6 separate regions of the Homo sapiens genome follow, and all the other regions are linked to region 5. The links come from fine-mapping of genetic effects on gene expression. A gene starts in region 5. Each other region holds a variant in brackets. All regions are shown on one strand. Distances are between the middles of the regions.

Region 1 (4,088 bases), 140 kb before region 5:
CAGTAACAGGATTGCTGGGTCAAATGGTATTTCTGGTTCTAGATCCTTAAGGAATCGCCACACTATCTTCCACAATGGTTGAACTAGTTTACACTCATACCAACAGGGTGAAAGCATTCCTATTTCTCTCCACATCCTCTCCAGCATCTGTTGTTTCCTGACTTTTTAATGATTACCATTCTAACGGGTATACATGTGCCATGAGATGGTATCTTATTGTGGTTTTGATTTGCATTTCTCTAATGACCAGTGATGATGAGCTTTTTTTCATATGTTTGTTGACTGCATAAATGTCTTCTTTTGAGAGGTGTCTGTGCATATCCTTTGCCCACTTTTTGATGGGGTTCTTTGTTTTTTTCTTGTAAATTTGTTTAAGTTCCTTGTAGATTCTGGATATTAGACCTTGTCAGATGGATAGATTGCAAACATTTTCTCCCATTCTGTAGATTGCCTGTTCACTCTGATGATAGTTTCTTTTGCTGTGCAGAAGCGCTTTAGTTTGATTAGATCCCATTTCTCAATTTTGGCTTTTGTTGCAATTGTTTTTGGTGTTTTAGTCATGAACTCTTTGCCCATGCCTATGTCCTGAATGGTATTGCCTAGGTTTTCTTCTAGGGTTTTTACGGTTTTAGGTCTTATGTTTCAGTCTTTAATCCATCTTGACTTAGTTTTTGTATAAGCTATAAGGAAGGGGTATAGTTTCAGTTTTCTCCATATGGCTAGCCAGTTTTCCCAGCACCATTTATTAAATAGGGAATCCTTTTCTCATTGCTTGTTTTTGTCAGGTTTGTCAAAGATCAGATGGTTGTAGATGTGTGGTGTTATTTCTGAGACCTCTGTTCTGTTCCATTGGTCTATGTATCTGTTTTGGTACCAGTACCATGCTGTTTTGGTTACTGTAGTCTCATAGTATAATTTGAAGTCAAGTAGCAGCTGTGTAATTCTAAGCAAGACATTTAATCTGCCTTTACCACTCACAATAATGTCTCTGTGTTAGTCCATTTGCATTGCTATAAAGAAATATCAGAGACTGGGTAATTTATTTATTTTTTATCCAAAATGTGTTTATTGAGGCCAGGCACAGTGGCTCATGCCTGTAACCTCAGCACTTTAGAATGTCGAGGTGAGCAGATCACCTGAGGTCAGGAGTTCAAGATCAGCCTGGCCAACATGATGAAACCCCAAAATAAGCCGGGCATAGTGGCGCATGCCTGTAATCCCAGATACTCAGGAGGCTGAGGCAGGAGAATTGCTTGAACCTGGTAGGCGGAGGTCGCAGTGAGCCAAGCTCACACCACTGCACTGCAGCCTGGGCGACAAGAGTGAAACTCAGTCTCAAAAAAAAAAAAGTGTTTATTGAGATGATTTCCCACTCATCTTGATTCGGAGTGCTTTTTAATGCTGCTTCCTCCTGAAGGAACATCCTTCTGTAAGCCTTGCTTTTCTTTCTGTAGGCTGGCAGAGGACAGTGGAGCAGCCAACACACAAAATTTCTGTTAGTGCATGGCTAAAGACTGTGATGATTTTGTACCATCCTGGGCATTTACACCCATGAAGTAGGAATTGGGGCTCTGCATCAGGCACTGCTTCTTGTGTTTCCTCTTCCCCTATTCTGGAGAGGGATGAAGGAGATCCTTTGTGAGAGGCATGTTCTCCTGGGTAGGTCGTCACCGCTGGAAAAAGACTGGGTAATTCGCAAAGAAAAGAGGTGGCCGGCCACAGTGGCTCACGCCTGTAATCCCAGCACTTTGGGAGGCCGAGGTGGGCGGATCACCTGAGGTCAGGAGTTCAAGACCAGCCTGGCCAAAATGGTGAAACCCCATTTCTACTACAAATACAAAAATTAGCTGGGCGTGATGGCGGGCACCTGTAATCCCAGCTACTTGGGAGGCTGAGGCGGGTGAATCGCTTGAACCTGGGAGGCGGAGGTTGCAGTGAGCTGAGATTGCACCATTGCACTCCAGCCTGGGCGACAAGAGTGAAACTCCGTCTCAAAAAAAAAGGAGAGAGGAAAAAGAAGAGGTTTAATTGGCTCACCGTTCTGCAGGCTGTAT[A/G]GGAAACATGGCACCAGCATCTGCTTGGCTTCTAGTGAGGCCTTAGGGAGCTTTTACTCATAGCAGAAGGCAAAACAGGAGCAGACATGTCACATGGTGAGAGTGAGTGGTGGAGGTGGAGGAGGTGCCACACTTTTTTAAACAACCAGAGCTCTCAAGAGCTCTCAGAGCGAGAACTCCCTTATTATTGTGAGGACAGCACTAACCCATTTATGAGGAATCTGCCCCCATGACCCAAACACCTCACACTAGCCCACCTCCAACAGTGGGGATCACATTTCATCATAAGATTTGGAAGAGACAAAACATCCAAACCTTATCAGTCTGTGAAAATGTTTGGAAGAATAAAGTGCTACTAGCAGTTGAGCCATTCAATATTTAAGGGCAAGCTGCTTCCATGGGCTTGGTCTTAGGAGGGAATTAAAGAATAGCTAAGGTGAAACCAACTCAATAGTCCCATAGACAGTTCTGGTCTTAAGCTTGAACCTTACATTTGTATTATCTGAGTTCCTTCCTCAGGAAAGGACCCTCAAAAGCCTCTCAAAAAGTACCTGAAGAAAAAGAACTGAAACTCACCAGATCGTTGCATCCAGACAATGAGACACCAGGCCCTTCATTCATCATGATTGCTTCCTTACCCCTCTCAAGTTGAGTTCCTGTTTTCCCATGCATAGTTACATTTCTTCCCTGCTAGATTAACCCCTAATTATAGTCAGTCAGGAGATGAATTTGAGACTAGTTCCCATGTCTTCAGCTGCAGCACCCAATTAAAGCTTTCTTCCTTGGCAATACTCATTGTCTCAGTGATTGGTTTTCTGTGCTATGAGGAGCAGGACTTAGACTGAATACCTGCTATTATGGTAACAAAAGCATGGTCTATGCTGGAGGCATCTGTGGTTTTTGCATGTCTAGCTTCTATTAGAGCACACATGCAGCTTTTCATTTATAACTCACCCTTCTTCAGCCCAGCGCAGTGGCTCATGCCTGTAATCCCAGCACTTTGGGAGGTCAAGTGGGTGCATCACGAGGTCAGGAGATCAAGACCATCCTGGCTAACACGGTGAAACCTCGTCTCTACTAAAAATACAAAAAAATTAGCCAGGCGTGGTGCCAGGCGCCTGTAGTCCCAGCTACTCTGGAGGCTGAGGCAGGAGAATGGCGTGAACCCGGGAGGCAGAGATTGCAGTGAGCCAAGATCGCACCACTGCACTCCAGCCTAGGCAACAGAGTGAGACTCCATCTCAAAAAAAAAAAAAGAAAAAGAAAAAGAAAAAAAAACCTTATCTTTCTTCCATTCCATGAGGTCCTGACGGGATTGTGTTCTGCCCACACATTAGCGGATATGAGATCCAGGCTGCCTCATCTGATGTGGTGATAGGTTCAAAGATGGACACATAACCCAAACCAAGACCTATCAGACGCTTCCAGAGACATGATAGAAAGCTGCTGGAAGAGAGCCACTTCCCTGTAACCCACTACGTGCTTATGTACTGGAGCTGACACCAGGCATCTTCCGCAGTTACACAGAGAAAGTCTAAACATGACAGCATGAGACTAAATATGCTGTGAGAAGCAGTGAAGATGAGAGAAACAGACTGAAAGGGAACCCTGAAGCCAAGTCAGCTCCTAAACTTCTCAGTTCTCTAATTCAAAAGAGTCCCTTGTATGCATAAGCTGATTTGAGTTTCTGTTATTAGAAACCAAAGCCGTTCTGACTAATACAGTTTCAGTCCTCAAATTCATATCTTATGAAATTTGATAGTTATTTACTTAATAAGAGACCATTTAAAAAATATCAGCTAATTCTGAAACATACAAGCTCAGTTTAAGCATCTTATGATGACCTCAGCACCCTAGAAGGCCTGTTTCTAGAGAACACTACTTCTGCTCTCAATAGTGGAGATGGGTGGTTAGCAATAGTTGTGTTGTACCTAAACCTGTTATTCCCACTTGTACTTGCTACTACATGTGTGTACGTATGTGTATGATTTAATTAAATATTATTTAAATGATAAAATATGATGCGGGCCAGCT
Region 2 (4,088 bases), 53 kb after region 5:
TAAATTACATTACTGTATTTATAAATTACATTACAGGCTGGGCATGGTGGCTCATGCTTATAAATCCCAGCACTTTGGGAGGCCAAGGTGGGTGGGTCACCTGAGGCTGGAGTTCAAGACCAGTCTGACCAACATGGAGAAACCCCATCTCTACTAAAAATACAAAAAATTAGCTAGGCCTAGTGGCGCATGCCTGTAATCCCAGCTACTTGGGAGGCTGAGGTAGGAGAATCGCTTGAACCTGGGAGGCGGGGGTTGTGGTAAGCCGAGACTGTGTCATTGCACTCCAGCCTGGGCGACAAGAGCGAAACTCTGTCTCAAAAAAAAAAAAAAACACATTACAGTGTTTGCCAACATCCTAAAACAAAAAATAATGATTTTTGGGAAAAACAAAAAATTATTTAACTATTTTGATTGACTATAGGGATCTTAGCTTGGCTAAATCAACAATATAGCAATGTATCTTAATGCTCTAAAAAGTAACAATACCTAGGACTGACTGAATGTTAATTTCTGGAATTCATTTATCTTGTTTTATTTGCCTTGTTCAGTATTTTTCATTTACCATATGAAGTTTAGAAATAACAATTTCCTTAAGTTAACTTCAATAAGACAGTTTTGATGGTGGGACCTTGGCAGAAGTATATTGAGTCAGTGCCGGCTGCGTTCATGGCTTCTTGTCAGGGTAGTAACATTTTGCAACCAAATCTGCACAGATTTGTAGCCAAGTCTACAAAGTGCTTAACAGCTCTTTTCATTGCATCCTGTGAGATGGTTGTGATGATCCAGGAAATGGGGTCTCAGGAATCTGAAGAAGCTGCCTGAGCCAAGGTGATTTCTAGGAGTTTTTTTGTTTGTGGTATGTGAATTGGGGTGTGTGGGGGTGGGGTGTGTGTGTAGACAGGGTCCCACTGTGTTGCTCAGGCTGGTGCCAAACTCCTGGCCTCAAGGGATCCTCCTGCCTCAGCCTCTCAAAGTGCTGGGATTACAGGCATAAACCACAACTCAATAAAAAAGTTTTTAAAAATTTACAAAGCTCATATTTGATCCAGCTAGGATTTTACCCTGTACATTTGTATTTCTTGTAGGCTGGCGCACAGATATCTTAAATGGCTACTAATTGCTGCTGTGTATGAAAACAAATGGCTATCAAGGCCGGGTGCAGTGGCTTACAGATCTGGTCTGAATCTCAAGTCCAGACCAGTCCAGAGTTCAAGACCAGCCTGGGCAACATGGTGAAACCCCATCTATACAAAAACTCGGCAAGGCATGGTGGCATGCACCTGTTGTCCCAGCTACTCAGGGGCTGAGGCAGGAGGATGGCATGAGCCCAGGAGCTTGAGGCTGCAGTGAGCTGTGATTGTGCCACTGCACTCCAGCCTGAGTGACAGAGTGAGACCCCCATCTCCAAAAGAAAAGGCTATCAATACAAAAGTTTATCTAAATTACTGTACAGCTATACAATGGAATACTCTACAAAATGGAGAGATCCATAAGATAAAGCAAATGAATAAAGCAAAATGCATGTGTTGACAGCTGTTGTGATACCTCAGTTCTTGTCTTCTTGGTTTAAAAGAATTTAAATGAGACAGCAAAGGAGATGCAGCATAATTTATTGCAAAAGAAAAGGAGTATTTTGAAAGTTAGGTGCAGAACAGACAGTACACCTGAGAGAGAGAATTCAGGGCCGGCTGCTCGTAAGGGTGAGACAGCATTGATTATTGCTGGAGAAACTCCCTTTATGGGAGTTTTGCATTATTATTCATAAGGAGGTGAGGTGTTGCAGTAATCATGTCCTGGGTGGTCCTCTGCACAGGTGCAGTAGCTGTTAATGCTTGTTCATACACCACATGTCTCAGTAGCATCTTAAATTTCCACCTAGAGGTGTGTTTTTTATTATTATCATGTGCAAAGGATCAGTTTGAGGACAGGTAAAATCAAAATGTGTATGCTCTCTAGAAGGGAAAGTCCCTACTGAAGATAGCTTTGCTTAAATGAGCTCAATTACAATGTGAATGCTGAGGTTTATTGTGTTGGCTGTATGGTCATGAGAAAATGGTCATTTCCTTGACTACCTGATACGGTTTGGCTGTGTCCCCACCCAAGTCTTATTTTGAATTGTAATCCCCATAATTCCCACATGTTGAAGGAGGGACTTGGTGGTAGGTGACTGGATCATGGGGGTGGTATCCCCCATGCTGTTCTCATGATTGTGAGTTCTCACGAGATCCAATGGTTTTATACATGGTAGTCTCTCCTGCTGCCATGTAAAACATGCCTGCTTCCCCTTCTGCCAGGATTGTAAGTTTCCTGAGGCCTGCCCAGCCATGTGGAGCTATGAGTCAATTAAACCTCTTTCCTTTATAAATTACTGAGTCTTGGG[T/GT]AGTATTCTTTATAGCAGTTTGAGAACGGAATAATACACTCCTATCCTGCCTCACGTGTTAGACACATTTTGAGTGTCCTCAGATCCCTTTGGCGCTATTATCTCCTGGACTCTTAGCTGCTTGGCTGCTTCTCCCTTGGCAGCTCCCTGTCTACACACACACACGAGGAAGTCAGACAGATTTGAAGCACGAGTGGGTTTGATGCACTGCTGCTGTCCTGTGGTGAGTGCCACAGGACAAAGGCATGGAAGTTTCCTTAAGAAGCTGAGAGAGGCCCTGGGCTAACAGTCAAAAGGGAAATGGGGGCAATGGAGCACAAGAATTGCAACTATAAGAACTGCATGAGCGGCCGGGCACGGTGGCTCACGCCTGTAATCCCAGCACTTTGGGAGGCCAAGGTGGGCGGATCACGAGGTCAGGAGATAGAGACCATCCTGGCTAACACAGTGAAACCCCGTCTCTACTAAAAATACAAAATATTAGCTGGGCGTGGTGGCGGGCACCTGTAGTCCCAGCTACTCGGGAGGCTGAGGCAGGAGAATGGGTGAACCCAGTGGGCGGAGGTTGCAGTGAGCCGAGATCGTGCCACTGCACTCCAGCCTGGGCGACAGAGCAAGACTCCATCTCCAAAAAAAAAAAAAAAACAAACCTGCATGAGCTTGGTAGCAGATTCTTTCCAGGGGCCTCCAAATAAAACTAGTTTGACTAACACCTTGATTTTGGCCTTGTGAGACCCTAAGCAGAAAACACAGCTGAGCCAGATATATGGCCTACAGAACTGTGAGCTAATACATTTGTGTTACTTTAATTAGCTGGGCATGGTGGTACACATTTGTAATCCCAGCTACTTGGGAGGCTAAGGTAGGAGGATCACCTGAACCCCAGGATGCAGAGGTTACAGTGAGCTGAGATTGCACCACTGCACTCCAGCCTGGGCAACAGAGCAAGACTCTGTCTCATTAAAAAAAAAAAAAAAATTAACCAGGCATGGTGGTATGCACCTGTAGTCCCAGCTACTGGGGACAGAGGTGGAAGGATGGCTTGAGCCCAGGAGTTCGAAGCTGCAGTGAGCCATGATTGCACTACTACACTCCAACCTGGGCAACAGAGACTATCTCACAAAAAAAAAAAAAAAAAAAGGAGAGAGAGATTCTATCAATTTATATACAATTTTGAGACCCAAAACAATGCTGTACATTGTTATGCATCTCACTACATGCACTCTTACAGAATACTAGCATAAAATCATGGAAAGATACACACCAATTTCATAGAGTCATTTCCCTCTGGGGAAAGTGAAAAGGAAAAAATAGAAATAAAGTGAAGTATTGGCTGGGCGCGGTGGCTCACACCTGTAATCCCAGCACTTTGGGAGGTCAAGGCAGGTGGATGAAAAGGTCAGGAGTTCGAGACCAGCCTGGCCAATATGGTGAAACCCCATCTCTACTAAAAATACAAAAAAAAAAAAAATTAGCCAGGCGTGGTGGCACATACCTGTAACCCCAGCTACTTGGGAGGCTGAGGCAGGAGAACTGCTTGAATCCAGGAGGTGGAGGTTGCAGTGAGCCAAGATCGCACCACTGCACTCCAGCCTGGGTGACAGAGCGAGACTCCATCTCAAAAAAAAATAAAATAAAGTGAATTTTTAAGAGGGAACCTCTGGCCAGGTGTAGTGGCTCATGCCTGTAATCCCAGCACTTTGGG
Region 3 (4,088 bases), 30 kb after region 5:
AGTTTGAGATCAGCCCAGCCAACATGATGAAACCACTTCTCTACTAAAACACAAAAATTGGCCGGGCGTGGTGGCGGGCGCCTGTAATCCTAGCTACTCAGGAGGCTGAGGCAGGAGAATCACTTGAACCTGGGAGGCGGAGGTTGCACTGAGTCGAGATCACATGACTGCACTCCAGCCTAGGTAACAGAGCAAGACTCCGTCTCAAAAAGAAAAAAAAAAAAAAAGGGTATGTTTAAAATCCTGGCCGGGCATGATGGCTCACAACTGTAATCCCAGCACTTTGGGAGGCTGAGGCGGGCTGATCACTTGAGGTCAGGAGTTCGAGACCAGCCTGGCCAACATGGTGAAATCCCGTTTCTACTAAAAATACAAAAATTAGCCAAGTGTGGTGGCAGACACCTGTAATCCCAGCTACTTGGAAGGCTGAGGCAGGAGAATCACTTGAACCCAAGAGGTGGAGGTTGCAGTGAGCTGAGATTGTGCCACTGCACTTCAGCCTGGGCGACAGAGTGAGACTCCATTTCAAAAAAAAAAAAAAAAATTCTTACCACATTCCTTTAAATTGTTTTTATTTTTGTGATACGTGTAAATTCCAGACTATTTTGAAGTAGGAAAAACTATATTTAGATTTTTGTGTTCCAATTATGGCAATAAAAATATTCTCGCTCAGCAAGGAAATATTAATGTTTTAGTTATTTGAAAGCCACTTTTTTCCAGGCTAAACTGTGAAAATGCAGTCCTCAAAGAGAATTTGAAAGTGAAAACAGAAGAAATTAAAATGCTGAAGTCTGACAATGCAGGTAATGATGATTTTTGTATTAAGAGCACATGTATCAATAAAGATAACATGCTAGTATTTTGAAATAATATACATTAAGTATAATAGAGGGGAGAAATGTATCATTTAGGTTTTTTAAATTTAAGAAAATTTATCAAGGTGAAATTCACATAACATAAAACTATTTAAAAGTGAACAATTCCTGGCTGGGCACAGTAGCTCATTCTTGTAATCCCAGCACTTTGGGAGGCCAAGGTGGGCAGATCATCTGAGGTCAGGAGTTCAAGACCAGCCTGGCCAACATAATGAAACTCCATTTCTACCAAAAATACAAAAATTAGCGAGACATGGTGGTGCGCACCTGTAGTCCCAGCTACTCAGGAGGCTGAGGCAGGTGAATCGCTTTTACTCTGGAGGCCGAGGTTGCAGTGACCCAAGATTGTGCCTCTGCACTCCAGCCTGGACAACAGAGTGAGACTCCATCTCAAAAAAAAAAAAAAAAAAAAAGTGAACAATTCTTGCCAGGCACAGTGACTCATGCCTGTAATCCCAGAACTTTGGGAGGCCAAGGCAGGAGGATCACTTGAGCTTAGGAGTTTGAGACCAGCCTGGGCAACATAGCAAAACCTTGTTTCTATTAGAAACAAACAAACAAACAACAACAACAACAGAAAAACCAAAATTAGCCAGATGTGGTGGCACTGGCCTGTAGTCCCAGCTACTTGGGAGGTTGAAGTGGGAGGATTGCTGGAGCCCAGGAGGTTGAGGCTGCAGTGAGCCATGATTGTGCCACTGCACTGCAGCTTGGGTGACAGAGCGAAACTCGGTCTCGAAAAAATAAGTTAACAATTCAGTGGCATTCACAAAGTTGCCTAACCACCACCTCTGTCTAGTTCCAGACAGTTCCAGTACTCCAAAGTAAAATCTCCTACCTATTAAGCAATTTCTCCCCATTTTCTCCTTTTTATTTAGTTTTCACTTAAAGCAAAATGGTAGAGCACCTGATATTTGAAGAACCTAAGTAGAAATGATATATATGTGTGTATATAATTTATATGTTATATATCTCTTATATAATGGTCTACCTTACGATGAAAGTTGATGCAAGGATAATAAGATATTTAATGTTAACTTTTTTTTTTTTTGAGACAGAGTCTCACTTTATCGCCAGGCTGGAGTGCAGTGGTGCAATCTTAGCTCACTGCAACCTCCGCCTCCTGGGTTTAAGCAATTCTTCTGCCTCAGCCTCCTGAGTAGCTGGGACTACAGGTGCATGCCACCACACCCAGCTAATTTTTGTATTTTTAGTAGAGACAGGGGTTTCACCATGTTGGCCAGGATGGTCTCAATCTCCTGACCTCGTGATCCGCCCGCCTCAGCCTCCCAAAGTGCTGGGATTACAGGTGTGAGCCACCGCGACTGGCCTTTTTTTTTTTTTTTTTTTTTTTGAGATGGAGTCTCACTCTGTTGCCCAGGCTGGAGTGCTGTGACGCCATCTTGGCTTACTGCAACCTCCACCTCCCAGTTCAGGTGATCCTCCTGCCTCAGCCTCCCAAGAAGCTGGGACTACAGGTGCCTGCCACCACACCTGGCTAATTTTTGTATTTTTAGTAGAGGCAGGGTTTCACCATGTTG[A/G]CCAGGCTGGTCTCAAACTCCTGACCTCAAATGATCCACCCACCTTGGCCTCCCAAAGTGCTGGGATTACAGGTGTGAATCACCATGTCCAAACTGATGTTAACTTTTTACATATTTTATTTATTTATTTGTTTATTTATTTATTTATTTTCACACAGGGTCTTGCTCTGTTGCCCAGTTTGGAGTGCAGTGACACAATCTCAGTTCACTGCAACCTCCACTTTCTGGGCTCAAGAGATCCTCCCACCTCAGCCTCCCAAGTTGTTGGTACTACAGGCATGTTCCACCATGTCCAGCTAATTAAAAAATATATTATTATTATTATTATTATTATTTTGAGACAGAATCTCACTCTGTCGCCCAGGCTGGAGTGCAGTGGCACAATCTTGGCTCACTGTGACCTCTGCCTCCCAGGTTCAAGTGATTCTCCTGCCTCCACTTCCTGAGTAGCTGGGATTGCAGACACCCACCACCATGCCCAGATTTCTTTTTTTTTTTTGAGACAGAGTCTCACTCTGTCACCCAGGCTAGAGTGCAATGGTGCAATCTCACCTCACTACAACCTCCTCCTCCCGAGTTCAAGGATTCTCCCGCCTTGGCCTACCACGTAGCTGGGATTATAGGCACCTGCCATCATTCCCAGCTAATATTTTTGTCTTTCTGTAGAGACGGGGTTTCACCATGTTGACAAGGCTGGTCTTGAACTCCTGACCTCAGGTGATCTGCTCGCCTTGGCCTCCCAAAGTGCAACATTAAAAAAAAAATTTTTGTAGACATGGGGGTGACTCACTTTGTGAGGGCTCAACTCCTGGGCTCAAGCAATCCTCCCACCTTGGCCTCCAAAAGTGCTGGGATTACAGGTGTGAGCCACTGCACCCAGCCCTAAAAATTTAGAGAAGAGGCTAGTTCTTCCTTCTTAGCAGAAATTAAAGAGGTGGCTTGAAGAGGACAAATCACAAGCCAGGCGCTGTTGCTCATGCCCGTAATGGCCAGTGCTATGGAAAGCCAAGGGGAGAGGATTGCTTGAGGCCAGGAGTCTGAGACCAATCTGGGCAACATAACGAGACTCTTCCTCTACAAAAAATAAACAAAAATTAGCCAGGCATGGTAGCATGCACCTGGTTTTTTTTTTTTTTTTTTGAGAGGGAGTCTTGCTCTGTCGCCCAGGCTAGAGTGCAATGGCGCAATCTCACCTCACTGCAACTTCCTGGCTGATTGGGAGGTTAAGGTGAGAGGATCCCTGGAGCCCAGGAGTTTGAAGTTGCAGTGAGCTATGATTGGACCACTGCACTCCAGCCTGAGTGACAGAGCAAGACTCTGTCTCTTACACAAAGAAAAGGAAGGAAAAAAAGAAGAAAAGAAAGGAAAAAAGAAGAAAAGGACAAAAAAAGCTCTAAATTAGGCCCTGGGGCTGAGAGCGGCACTTTATGCTGTGTCTTAGCTGAGTTGTATAAACGCCTCCAGCTGAGATCTGCACACACAGCTGGAGCTTCTCAGCACCAGGGACTCCAGCTGATAAAGATGTCTCCTGTGTGAGATAAGTTCAGGACAGAAGCTGCTCATGATCATAAGTCCTCCCCTTCTGTCCTACCACTCTACCCTGCAGTGACAGGGAAAAGATACTGTTTTCTGCTCTCCAGTAGACAGCAGGACCCCTCTCTAAATGTTTGGT
Region 4 (4,088 bases), 43 kb after region 5:
CTCCATCTCAAAAAAAAAAAAATGATCAGTATTGAGTATTATTATATCTGTGTATTAAAAAATATATTAAAATAGCATGAGAGAATTGAAGTAGATCTTCCAGTATGAACAAAGTAGCTGTTATTTTTTAGAAATCTGTTTCTCTAAGTAGTTCATACCAATTTTTATTCATCAGTATTATTCTGTAGAATTCATATTGCTTCAGTTTAAAATGTCAAATTATAATTTGAAACCATTTATCAGTTGAGAAAGAATCAAGTGAAGTTTATAAGAATTTTAAATGTTTTGTAGAAAAATTCTAGGATGACTGTATTTCTAAATATTTTCTTATCTGTCAGATCTATAATTCTAACATCTCTTATATTCAGGTGAATTTAGAAAGACTAATACACATCTTGTAATATTTAAAATGATCTTAGGGGAACACCATCATAGAAAATATTTAAAATGGAACCTGTTGGCTGGGCGTCGTGGCTCATGCCTGTAATCCCAGCACTTTGGGAGGCCGAGGTGGGTGGATCATTTGAGGTCAGGAGTTTGAGACCAGCCTGGCCAACATGGTGAAACCCTGCCTCTACTAAAAATACAAAAATTAGCCGGGCTTGGTCGCAGGCGCCTGTAGTCCCAGCTACTTGGGAGGCTGAGGCAGGAGAATTGCTTGAACCTGGGAAGTGGAGGTTGCAGTGAGCCAAGATTGCACTACTGCACTCCAGCCTGGGGGAAAGAGCAAGACTGTCTCAAACAAAAAAAAAAAAAAAAGAAAAAAAAGAAAAAAAAAAGAAACCTGGCCATGTGCGGTGGCTCAGGCCTGTAATCCCAGCACTTTGGCAGGCTGAGGCAGGCAGATCACCTGAGGTCAGGAGTTCAAGACCAGCCTGGCCAACATTGAGAAACCCCATCTCTACTAAAAATACAAAAATTAGCTGGGTGTGATGGCACTCACCTGTAATCCCAGCTACTCGGGAAGCTGAGGCAGGAGAATCGCTTGAACCTGGAAGGCAGAGGTTGCAGTGAGCCAAGATTGCGCCACTGTACTCTAGCCTGGGTGACAGAGCAAGACTCTGTCTCAAAATAATAATAATAATAGTAATAATAATAATAATAATAAAATGAAAGCTTTATAGTAGATAGCCATTTTGTTTGAAATATTTATTTTCAAACAGTATATATTACTAATAGTATAGGAGTCAGCTGTCGTGAATTTTAGTTTCATTAACTAAGCTTTCCCCCTTTTCTTTGCTGAAAAGGGTAAGAAGTGATGCAGAGGGATGATAGAAATAGAAGCAGTAAATCAGAACTACAGAGTAGGGAAATGCAGATCATAGAAGCTACATGTTTGGAGTGTTCATTAGATGGAAGCCAGGACAAAACAGGAAAATATAATGTTTTGTAACACTTATTCTGAGAAAGTCATTCATATTTTCTTGAAATTAATTTCTAAAAATGTTTTCTGACACGAAACTTTTGAGAAAATATAATGGCTAAATTCCCGACAGTGTTTTAGTAGCTTTTTTTTTTTTTTTTTTGAGGCAGCATCTTATCCTGTTGCCCAGGCTGGAGTGCAGTGGTGTGATCATGACTCACTGCAGCCTCTACCTCATGGGCTCAAGCAATCCTCCCACCTCAGCCTCCCTAGCAGCTGGGACTTCAGGCATGTGCCACCATGCCAGGCTAAATTTTGTATTTGTTTATAGAGATGAGGTCTCACTGTGTTACCCAGGCTGGTCTCAAACTCCTGGGCTCAAGCGGTCCTCCCTCCTCGGCCTCCCAAAATGCTGTGGTTACAGATGTGATCCACTGCACCTGGCCAACAATGTCTTATAATAAATACAAAATAATGTATTTAGATAATATGGTCATTTTCTATAATAAACTCTTCATAAAAGCTGAAGGTACAACTTTAATGTTCAATCCAGGTTAGGTGATTTTGCCAGGGAAAAAGCTAACATGGTCCATGTATTTAGCCTTTTAGGAACCAGTGGAAAACACTAAGAATACCTGGTTCTACCACGGACCACAGCTATGTGTAGATAATCTTCCTCAGACACCTCCTCTCTCAGCTAAGCCCTTAATAGCAGTTGGATTGTAAAATCCTCTTTGAGGACAGCCCTGGTGTTTTGTGCTAATTGAAGGCAGATCTTCTTA[G/A]AAAGTCAGATTGTAAATATTTGTTTGTTTTGATAGAGGTGGAAAGAAAAGTGATGGGAAAAAGAAGAGACGAAGGGGAAAGTCAGGGTTAAAGTAATCTTAATCTTACGAATGCCTGTCAGACCCTGTCACCTGCCTGCAAGGCCTGCAACCCTGTGTGGAGCTTGGCCATTAGGATAGTGCAGTGTAGACAAAGCTGCATTTTTCTCAAGAGCTAGATTCATACTCATTTCAGCACTTGAGAATATGTGCATTTGATGTTCCATAATTCCTACCTTCCACAGTGTAAGAGACAGGGGAAACCAAAGTGTTTTCCTATTCACACAGCACTTACCACTCAGCTCAGCGCTTCTGACACCAGATGCTAGGGGTGGGGGATTCCCCACACACCAGCTGGGTATCCTATCATTTCCCTCAATTCTCACACTGTCTACCTGGAGTTAGAGTCAGATCCCATAAGTTAAAGGCTCAGTCCCACAAGATGGCCTGCACTCCAAATGCCAGTCAAAAGCACAGAGTTGTCTCTGCTGCTCCTGACTGACTGGCTGTATGTACATTGGGACTCCCATGACGCCCTCCTCAGGCTCCATTGATTTGCTAGGATGCCTCACAGAACTCCGGGAAACACTTCCGTTTACCAGTTTATTATAAAGGATCTTACAAAGGATGCAGATGAACAGCCAGATAAAGAGATGGACAGGGCAAGGCACGTGGGAAGGGATGCTCTCTTTGGCGTACCACCCCTCAGGAACCTCACATGCTCAGCTATCTGGAAGCTCCCCAGACCCTTTTGGGTTTTTATGGAGGCTTCATTACATGGACACGGTACATCACTGGCCATTGGTGATTACATCATTGGCCATTGGTAATCAACTCAACCTTCAGCCCCTCTCGCTTCCCTGGAGTTTGGGGGCTAGGGCTGAAAGTTCCAGCTTTCTAATCACAAGATTGGTTCCCCTGGCAACCAGCCCCCATCCTGAGGCTATCCAGGAGCCCATCAAGAGCCTCATTAGAACAAAAGATGCTTCTATTACCCAGGAAATTCCAAGGGATTTAGGGGCTCTGTGTCAGATGCTCCTAGCACTGAGGAAATTACAGTCTTAAGAATTGTGTGTTAGGAACTGGGGTCAAAGACCAACTATGAGAAAAGATTCACCTAACACCCCTATCTACTAGGATTTTAGGAGCTCTATGTCAGGAACTGAGGGCAAAGACCAAATATATATTTCTTATATTACAATATCACATTCAGCTATTGACAAATCTAAGGAAGATTCCCACAAAAAATGCAATTCAGAGGGGTATAGCTCCCAATCTCTGAGTTCCAGTAAGGCACTGAGAGAGACTGAAGGCAGAATTTTAAATAATTGATATAGGCAGGGCACAGTGGCTCATGCCTGTAATCCCAGCGCTTTGGGAGGCTGAGGCAGGAGGATTGCTTGAGCTCAGGAGTTTGAGACCAGGCTGGGCAACATAGGGAGACCCTGTCTCTATTAAAAAAAAAAAAATAGCCAAGTGTGGTGGTAGATACCTGTGGTCTCAGCTACTAGGGAGGCTGAAGTGGGAGGATCGCTTGAGCCTGGGAGGCTGAGGCTGCAGTGAGTCATGATCCCACCACTGCAGTCCAGCCTGGGTGATGGAGCAAGACCCTGTCTCAAAAAAAAAAAACCACCAAAAACTGATGGCCGGGTGCAGTGGCACGCCTGTAATCTCAGGACTTTGGGAGGCTGAGGTGGGTGGATCACTTGAGGTCGGGAATTTGAGACCAGCCTGACCAACATGGAGAAACCCTGTCTCTACTAAAAATACAAAATTGGCTGGGTGTGGTGGCACAAGCCTGTAATCCCAGCTACTCGGGAGGCTGAGGCAGGAGAAATGTTTGAACCCGGGAGGCAGAGGTTGTGGTGAGCCAAGATTGCGCTGTTGCACTCCAGCCTGGGCGA
Region 5 (4,088 bases):
CTCTCTCTCCCTCCCTCTCCCTCTCTCTCTCTCTCTCTCTCTCTCTCCCACCCCCACCTCCTCTTTTTAAGACAAAGTCTTGCTCTGTCACCCAGGCTGGAGTGCAGTGGCGCGATCTCGGCTCACGGCAAACTCCGCTTGCCGGGTTCAAGAGATTCTCCTGCCTCAGCCAAGCAGCTGGGAATACAGGCACCTGCCACCACGACCGGCTAATTTTTTTTTTGGAAGAAAATGACTTTATTCTAATTAACTCACAAAGAATAAAATCATAACAGCTAGTTTAAGGAGGCCACACAAACATTTGCCCTGTCACAGATTCTACAGAGTAGGAACACCCCCCTTCCATTTCAATTCTGAAGCAAGGAAGCTAGGAATGACAGGAGAGGTTTAACTCATGGTTACACTTTATACCCTCACTATCAATTCTATTTTTATACTAAATTAACTTAGTTATGAGAGCTGATTTTCCATCTCTCCAGGTTGAACTTCTTGATTAGGCCAATCCGTTTGCAAGTCGGCACTGTTTCAGCACCTCATTGAAACCCTCACAGAGCTTGATGTCACCCTGGTTCTGGGCACACTCCAGAAACTGATCTCATAGAAGCAAGGCTGCTGCTGCTGTGCCGGCTGGGTTCCCTGAGGCTCCTGGTAAGTGATGTCAGGCCTCGCAGGCTCAGCATTACTTCCTCCCCTGAAAGCCCCAGTAATGGCGTGACCCACAGCAGAGCCCACAGCCACGCCAGCTGCAGTGGTTGCCATCTGGGCCATCAGACCTGGCTGCCGGGGCGCAGCAGCAGAAGAGCCAACTACAGATGGGGGTGCCGCTGCTGGTGGCTGAACGACTGGTACTGGCCTGGGTGCAGCTCTCATCTGAGGGGGCCTGGCTGGCCGGAGGGGCCATGCGGGAGGTGCGGCTTCGGCTTCCACGCGGCATCCTAGGTACGCGACGGCTCGGCCTCCGGACGTGTGACGACCGGCTAAATTTTGTATTTTAGTGGAGATGGGGTTTCACCATGTTGGCCAGGCTGGTCTCAAACTTCTGACCTCAGGTGATCCACCCACCTTGGCCTCCCAAAGTGCTGGGTTAACAGGCGTGAGCCACCGCACCTGGCCCGATCTACCCTTCTCTTACAGGATTCCTAGAGACTTAATATTTTGGTTTTGGTTTGTTTCTTTTTTGAGACAGGGTCTCCACTCCGTCGCCCAGGCTGGAGTGCAGTGGTCACTGTAGCCTGGATCTCCCAGGCTCACGGGATCCTCCCACCTGACGGCCTCCCGGCCTCCTGAGTAGCTGGGACTACAGGTACGCACCACCACACCCGCTACTTTTTAATTATTTTTTTTTTTTGAGACGGAGACTCGTTCTGTTGCCCAGGCTGGAGTGCAGTGGCACGATCTTGGCTCACTGCAAGCTCCGCCTCCCGGGTTCACGCCATTCTGCCTCAGCCTCCTGCGCAGCTGGGACTACAGGCACCCGCCACCACGCCCGGCTAATTTCTTGTATTTTTAGTAGAGAAGGGTTTTCACTGTGTTAGCCAGGATGGTCTCAATCTCCTGACCTCGTGATCCACCCGCCTCGGCCACCTAAAGTGCTGGGATTACAGGCGTGAGCCACCGCGCCCAGCCCTACTTTTTAAATTTTTTGTAGAGCGGGGTCTCACTATGTTGGCCATGCTGGTCTCGAATTCCTGGCCTCAAGCGATCCTCCCGCCTTGGCCTCCCAAAAGCTGGGATTACAGGTGTGAAACCCCGCGCCGGTCTGAACCTCAATGTTTGAACCACCAAATTTTACCTGTATTGACACAGGCCCCGTCTTGTTGTTTTTCTAAATCTCATGTCATTGTTTGCATATTGGTTACCCGTGGTTGGCTTTGGAGCTGAAGGTGGACAGAGCTAACATCAGGTTGCACACAGGAACACAGTGAGGTCGCGAAAAAGTAGCGCGAGCTGCCTCCATGGCCCAGGGCGACCTCACCGGCGTTTCCTGTCTGGGACTGCGCCCACGCGGTCACGTGGTGGCCCGGAGGACGCGCGGCGGCAGCGGCGCACGCGCACGGAGAGGAGGCTACTTGCCAGGTGAGCGAGCTGAGTGGGGCGCCGGGGCGGTAGGAGGGTGCTGTTCGCTGAGCTGGAGTCCGGGCTCCGGTCCCCGCCACGGACCTTGAGAGGGTACCCGGGGTCAGACCTGGCAGGTGGGAACCGGGAGTGGGGAGGACCCAGGGCAGGGGCGGGATGCGCAGATTCGTGGAAACTCTGCAGGTTGTGGACAAACTGCCCAAATCCTTTTCCCTGAATGCCAGTTTAATGGCCTCGTCTGATAAGAAAAAAATAAGAAATAGATTTCAGAGACCCTATTTCTCTCTCTGCCTCTCCACCTGCTTTACTTTTTTTCTCTTCTGTTAATTTTGAGCCTTATAAAACTATAGCGCCAGTATCCTGGTTTGGATCCTGAAACAGAAAAAGACATTAGTGGAAAAAATAATAAAGGCTGTGGTTTAGTTAATAGCACGTACCCATGTTAATTTCTTAATTTCGACAAATTGTACACAAATGTTGACATTAGAGGAATTTGGGTAAAAGGTACACAGGAATTCTTAGTACTATCTTTGCAATTTACTGTACATCTAAAATTATTCTAAAATGAAAAGTTAAGAAACAAAATCCTAAAGCAAAGTGCAGCAGGCCATTGTTCACCAGGGAGGGCTCAAGTTAGTTCCTCTTTGTCATGGAGTTAGGCATGTTTGACCAACTTGTTTGCTAAGGCAGAGTTGTCAGGCTACTGAATGTAGATTCTTCTGTCCAAAGGTTTCCGGGCAGGAATCGGTTTTCTCTTTCGATTCTGTCAAATATCTTTGGAACACATGTTGTGCATAAGCAAACGAGACACACAAAGTCTCTGCATAAGGGAATATACAGTCAGTCTAGGTCAGGTAGGAAGTAAGCACTATTAAAAAGATTCAGTAAAACCTCCCAGAACTGGGAAGACTCAGATGTGGAAGAAATCACATCTGGTCCAAGGGAGTCAGGAAGGCTACTGGAGGGAGTGCTGTCCTGAACTGAGGGGGCTCTGAGAAGAAACAGCATTCCTGGGGTGAAGAATGGCACCAATAGAGGCTTGCAGGTGACCAAGCTGAGCTGAGGGAGGAGCCCTGGGAGCAAGTGCAGTTCCTCTTACGTGGAAGCGCAGAGTACATCCAGGGAGTACTGCCAGATGAAACTGGAGGTGAAAACTGTAGCTTTGTTGTAGAAAACAGGGTGACACTTCAGTTGGATACATTATTTTTATTTTTATTTTTTTGAAACGGAGTTTCGGCTGGGCGCAGTGGCTCACGCCTGTAATTCCAGCACTTTGGGAGACCGGTGAGCAGATCTCCTGAGGTCTGGAGGTCTAGACCAGCCTGGCCAACATGGTGAAACCCCGTCTCTACAAAAATACAAATATTAGCCGGGCATGGTGGTGGGCGCCTGTAATCTCCGCTACTGGGGAGGCTGAGGCAGGAGAATCGCTTGAACCCAGGAGGTCTAGGTTGCAGTGAGCCGAGATCGCACCATTGCACTCCAGCGTGGGTGACAGACAATAGTGCTGTCTCAGCTCACTGGAACCTCCACCTCCCAAGTTCAAGCGATTCTCCTGCTTAGCCTCCCAAGTAGTTGGGATTAAAGGCGCCCGCCACCATACCTGGCTAATTTTTGTATTTTTAGTAGAGACGGGGTTTCACCATGTTGGCCAGGCTGGTCACAAACTCCTGACCTCAGGTGATCTGCCCGCCTCAGCCTCCCAAAGTGCTCGGATTACATGTGTGAGCCACTGTGCCCAGCCTACATTTTTTTTAAAAAGGAAAACAGGGTGACATTGACTACAATTATACATGCCATGGGAGCCATGGAATGTTTTACAGCAAGAGAGAGACATCATTCGGTTTGCACTTGGATATTATTGACTTGGCAGCAGTATGTAGGTTGGCTTGAAGTAGACCAATTAGGAAATTATCAGGCTAGCCTTGGGGAATTAAAGAGACGTTCCACCAGGGCAGTGAAATTAATGTGCAAAGAATGACATAGTTTGGGGAGATTTTTTTGGGTCTAGA
Region 6 (4,088 bases), 22 kb after region 5:
TGGAAGCAGGACCAGTAAGAGACTTTCGATTACAAAAAAAAAATTCTCAAGTGAATAAAGTCCATTGATAGATATTTTGTTTAAATGGTACCAAATCTGTGTGGAAGGCAAATTTTGGCTTTCCAGACATTCTTGCTGAACTTGAGAGCTCATCTTTTTCAACTGGCCTCCTCTGTTTCTTATCCACCTCATCTCTTAAAAGAAGCTACTTATGTAAACATGCCCACCGGTTCTCCTTTCCACCCCACTTCTCTTATCTCCTCCTTGAGAAAGTAAGTTATCACTTCCTTCCACCGGCCTTCCCCGTATGTGTGGCTTCAAACAATCTGACTTAATTTAACCTCATTAAAGTCAGAAGCCCAGAGTCTCAGGTGGCCTGAGTAGCCCACTGCCTTGGTGGAAATAGCAGTTTCTGCGAGGGGTGTCTGTCCTTTGGGAAATAGGAAGCCCACCTTACTGTGTGTTTGGGACTCTTCCCGTGAAAGCTACTGTATTTGGCTGCCGAGACAATGTACCACAAACTGGTGGCTTAAAACAGCAGAAATCTGTTTGCTTTTAGTTCTGGAGGCTGAAGTTTGAAACCAGAGTTTCAGCAGGCCGTGCTCCCTCTGAAGGCTTTAGAGGAGAGTCCTTTGCCTCTTCCTAGCTTCTGATGCTTGCTGCAATCCTTGGTGTTCCTTGGCTGGTAGCTGCAGAAATCCAGCCTCTGCCTGTCACATGGCCTTCTCCCTATGAGTCTGGGTCCAAATTTCCCTCAATTTATAAGGACACTAGTCATTGGATTGGGGCCTGCAGCTGCCTCCTCACCTTGAGTCCCTACATAAGGAACTACAACCTCAGTATGTAAACAACATGAAAGCCAACTGAGGCTGGGGGCAGTGGCTCATGCCTGTAATCCCAGCACTTTGGGAGGCCAAGGCAGGTGGATCATTTGAGGTCAGGAGTTCGAGACCAGCCTGGCCAATATAGTGAAACTCCGTCTCTACTAAAAATACAAAAATTAGCTGGGCAGTAGTGGCACATGCCTGCAATCCCAGCTACTCGGGAGGCTGAGGCAGGAGAATTGCTTGAGCCTGTGAGGCAGAGGTTGCAGTGAGCTGAGACCACGCCACTGCACTCCAGCCTGGGTGACAGAGTGAGACTCTGTCTCAGAGACCTTCCTGGTTCAAGCAATTCTCATGCCTCAGCCTCCGGAGTAGCTGGGATTACAGGTGTGAGCCACCATGCCCAGCTATTTTTTATTTTTTTAATTGAGACAGAGTCTTGCTGTCACCCAGACTGGAGTGCAGTGGCTCAGCCTCGGCTCACTGCAACCTCCGCCTCCCGGGTTCAAGCGATTCTCCTGTCTCAGCCTCCAGAGTAGCTAGGATTACAGGCATGCACCACCACGCCCAGCAATTTTTTTGTATGTTTAGTAGAGACGGGGTTTCACCATGTTAGCCAGGCTGGTCGTGAACTCCTGACCTCAGGTGATCCACCCACCTTGGCCTCCCAAAATGCAGGGATTACAGGTCACACCACCTTGCCCGGCCGAGGCTTTCAATTTTAGTATGTCTGGTTCACTCACTAAGTCTAGAAGAATTTTCAGCCACATTTGTAAGTGGTTTGAGCCAAGGGTAAATGTAGACTAGCCAAACTGATAATTTTAGGGTTGCATATCTTGCAGATAGGAAGACTAATTTTCTTTCTGTCCTCAGGAGGTAGAAATGTTAAAAACTGAACTTGAGGCATCTCAAAGACAACTCAGAGGTAAAGAGGAAGCATTGAAAATTCTTCAAAGCATGGTAAGAAGTTGTTTTTAAACTTTCACCATTTACACATTCCAATAATAATGTTGGTATGGTTTTAACTTTTAAAACCAAGGCAGAAGGACTTAATATAGTTGAGGGTTTTTTTAGGTATGTATATTTTTAAGAGCTTTATAATTTATATATCCTGAAGTTCACATGTAAATGTACACTACAATTCATTTTTACTAGATATAAGAGTTGTACCACCATCATTATAATCTAATTTTAGAATATTTCCAACACCAGAAAAGGGACTTGGTGCCCATCAGCAGTCATTCCTCATTCCCACCCCTATCCCCAGTAATCTATTTTCTGTTTGTAGATTTGCCTTTTCTATTTAATATAAATAGAATCATAAGATATGTGACTGGATTCTTTTGCATTGAGATTCTTTTAGTTAGCATGTTTTAGAGGTTCATACATGTCGTAGCGTGTATCAGTACTTTCTTCCTTTTTATTGCCAAGTAATACTCCATTGTGTAGATGCACCATGTTTTGCTTATGCATTCACCAGTTGATGGACATTTGGGTGGTGTATTAGTCCATTTTTATGCTGCTGATAAAGACATACCCAAGACTGGGGGAAAAAAAGAGGTTTAATTGGACTTACAGTTCCACATGGCTGTGAAGGCC[T/C]CAGAATCATGGTGGGAGGTGAAAGGCAGTTCCTACGTGGCAGCAGCAAGAGAAAATGAGGAAGATTCAAAAGTGGAAACCTCTGATAAAACCATCAGATCTCATGAAACTTATTCACATACCAGAACAGTATGGGGGAACCACCCCCATGATCCAAACTATCTCCCACTGGGTCCCTCTCACAACACGTGGGAATTATGGGAATACAATTCAAGATGAGATTTGGGTGAGGACACAGAGCCAAACCATATCATTCCACTCCAGCCCCTCCAAATCTCATGTCCTCACATTTCAAAACCAATCATGCCTTCCCAACAGTCCCCCAAAGTCTGAAATCATTTCAGCATTAACCCAAAAATCCACAGTCCAAAGTCTCATCTGAGACAAGGCAAGTCCCTTCTGCCTATGAGCTGGTAAAATCAAAAGCAAGCTAGTTACTTCCTACATACAATGGGGATGTAGGTATATAGCCATTCCAAATGGGAGAAATTGGCCAAAACAAAGGGGTTACTGGGCTCATGCAAATCCAAAATCCAGCAGGGCAGTCAAATTTTAAAGCTCCAAAATGATCTCCTTTGACTCCAGGTCTCACATCCAGGTCATACTGATGCAAGAGGTGGGTTCCCATGGCCTTGGGCAGCTCCGCCCCTGTGGCTTTGCAGAGTACAGCCTCCCTCCTGGCTGCTTTCACAGGCTGGCATTGAGTGTCTGCGGCTTTCCCAGGTGCACAGTGTAAGCCATGGGTGGATCTACCATTCTGGGGTCTGGAGGATGGTGGCCCTCTTCTCATAGCTCCACTAGGCAGTGCTGTAGTAGGGACTCTGTGTGGGGGCTCCAACCCCACATTTCCCTTCTGTAGTGCCCTAGCCCCGGTTCTCCATGAGAGCCCCATCCCTGCAGGAAACTTCTGCCTGGACATCCAGGCATTGCCATACATCTTCTGAAATCTAGTGGAGGTTCCCAAACCCCGATTCTTTACTTCTGTGCACCTGCAGGCTCAACATCATGTGGAAGCTGCCAAGGCTTGGGGCTTGCACCCTCTATATTCACAGACGGAGCTGTACCTTGGCCCCTTTCAGCCACCGCTGGAGTGGCTGGGACGCAGGGCACCAAGTCCTTAGACTGCACACAGCACGGGGACCCTGGGCCCTGCCCACGAAACCATTTTTTCCTCCGAGACTTCTGGCTCTGTGATGAGAGAGGCTGCTGCAAAGGTCTCTGACATGCCCTGGAGACATTTTCCCCATTATCTTGGGGATTAACATTTGGCTCCTCATTACTTATGCAAATATCTGCAGCTAGCTTGAATTTATCCTTAGAAAATGGGATTTTCTTTTCTATTGCATTGTCAGGCTGCAAATTTTCTGAACTTTTATGCTGTGCTTCCCTTTTAAAATGGAATGCCTTTAACAGTACCCAAGCCATCTCTTGAATGCTTTGCTGCTTAGAAATTTCTTCCACCAGATACTCTAAATCATCTCTCTCAAGTTCAAAGTTCCACAGATCTCTAGGGCAGGGGCAAAATGCCACAAATCTCTTTGCTAAAACATAACAAGAGTCACCTTTACTCTAGTTCCCAACAAGTTCCTCATCTCCATCTGAGACCGCCTCAGCCTGGATTTCATTGTCCATATCATTATCAGTGTTTTTGTGAAAGACACTCAA

Which allele goes with the higher level. Alleles are on the strand shown, and positions count from the first base shown. SD is a standard deviation of normalised expression in the study named. Not every link is listed here.
With allele A in place of G in region 3, the expression in whole blood of the gene that starts at base 2,040 in region 5 is lower (small effect, 0.32 SD a copy in GTEx).
As copies of A replace G in region 4, the expression in cerebellum of the gene that starts at base 2,040 in region 5 goes up (large effect, 0.82 SD a copy in GTEx).

Evidence for each region.
Region 1: its variant is fine-mapped to the expression of CCDC125 in blood mononuclear cells (TOPMed, PIP above 0.99).
Region 2: its variant is fine-mapped to the expression of CCDC125 in blood mononuclear cells (TOPMed, PIP 0.91).
Region 3: its variant is fine-mapped to the expression of CCDC125 in whole blood (TOPMed, PIP 0.93).
Region 4: its variant is fine-mapped to the expression of CCDC125 in cerebellum (GTEx, PIP 0.96). The same link has a PIP of 0.9 or more in thyroid.
Region 6: its variant is fine-mapped to the expression of CCDC125 in whole blood (INTERVAL, PIP 0.95).

What each region holds. Positions count from the first base shown.
Region 1 is chr5:69,467,444-69,471,531 of GRCh38, reverse strand. It overlaps the pseudogene RPS27P14. Among named protein-coding and RNA genes, the nearest start is that of OCLN, 23 kb to the left of the region's middle. The variant A/G (reference allele first, on the strand shown) is at 2,055.
Region 2 is chr5:69,278,139-69,282,226 of GRCh38, reverse strand. CCDC125 (coiled-coil domain containing 125) reads left to right here. Exons shown (of 12, transcript NM_176816.5): 12 at 1-2,052. Among named protein-coding and RNA genes, the nearest start is that of CDK7, 45 kb to the right of the region's middle. The variant T/GT (reference allele first, on the strand shown) is at 2,384.
Region 3 is chr5:69,300,562-69,304,649 of GRCh38, reverse strand. It overlaps CCDC125 (coiled-coil domain containing 125), which reads left to right. Exons shown (of 12, transcript NM_176816.5): 7 at 721-803. Among named protein-coding and RNA genes, the nearest start is that of CCDC125, 30 kb to the left of the region's middle. The variant A/G (reference allele first, on the strand shown) is at 2,417.
Region 4 is chr5:69,287,301-69,291,388 of GRCh38, reverse strand. All of the region lies in intron 10 of CCDC125 (coiled-coil domain containing 125), which reads left to right. Among named protein-coding and RNA genes, the nearest start is that of CCDC125, 43 kb to the left of the region's middle. The variant G/A (reference allele first, on the strand shown) is at 2,146.
Region 5 is chr5:69,330,753-69,334,840 of GRCh38, reverse strand. It overlaps CCDC125 (coiled-coil domain containing 125), which reads left to right and starts at 2,040. Exons shown (of 12, transcript NM_176816.5): 1 at 2,040-2,192. It also overlaps the pseudogene CHCHD2P2.
Region 6 is chr5:69,308,814-69,312,901 of GRCh38, reverse strand. CCDC125 (coiled-coil domain containing 125) reads left to right here. Exons shown (of 12, transcript NM_176816.5): 4 at 1,698-1,784. It also overlaps the pseudogene CFL1P5. Among named protein-coding and RNA genes, the nearest start is that of CCDC125, 22 kb to the left of the region's middle. The variant T/C (reference allele first, on the strand shown) is at 2,424.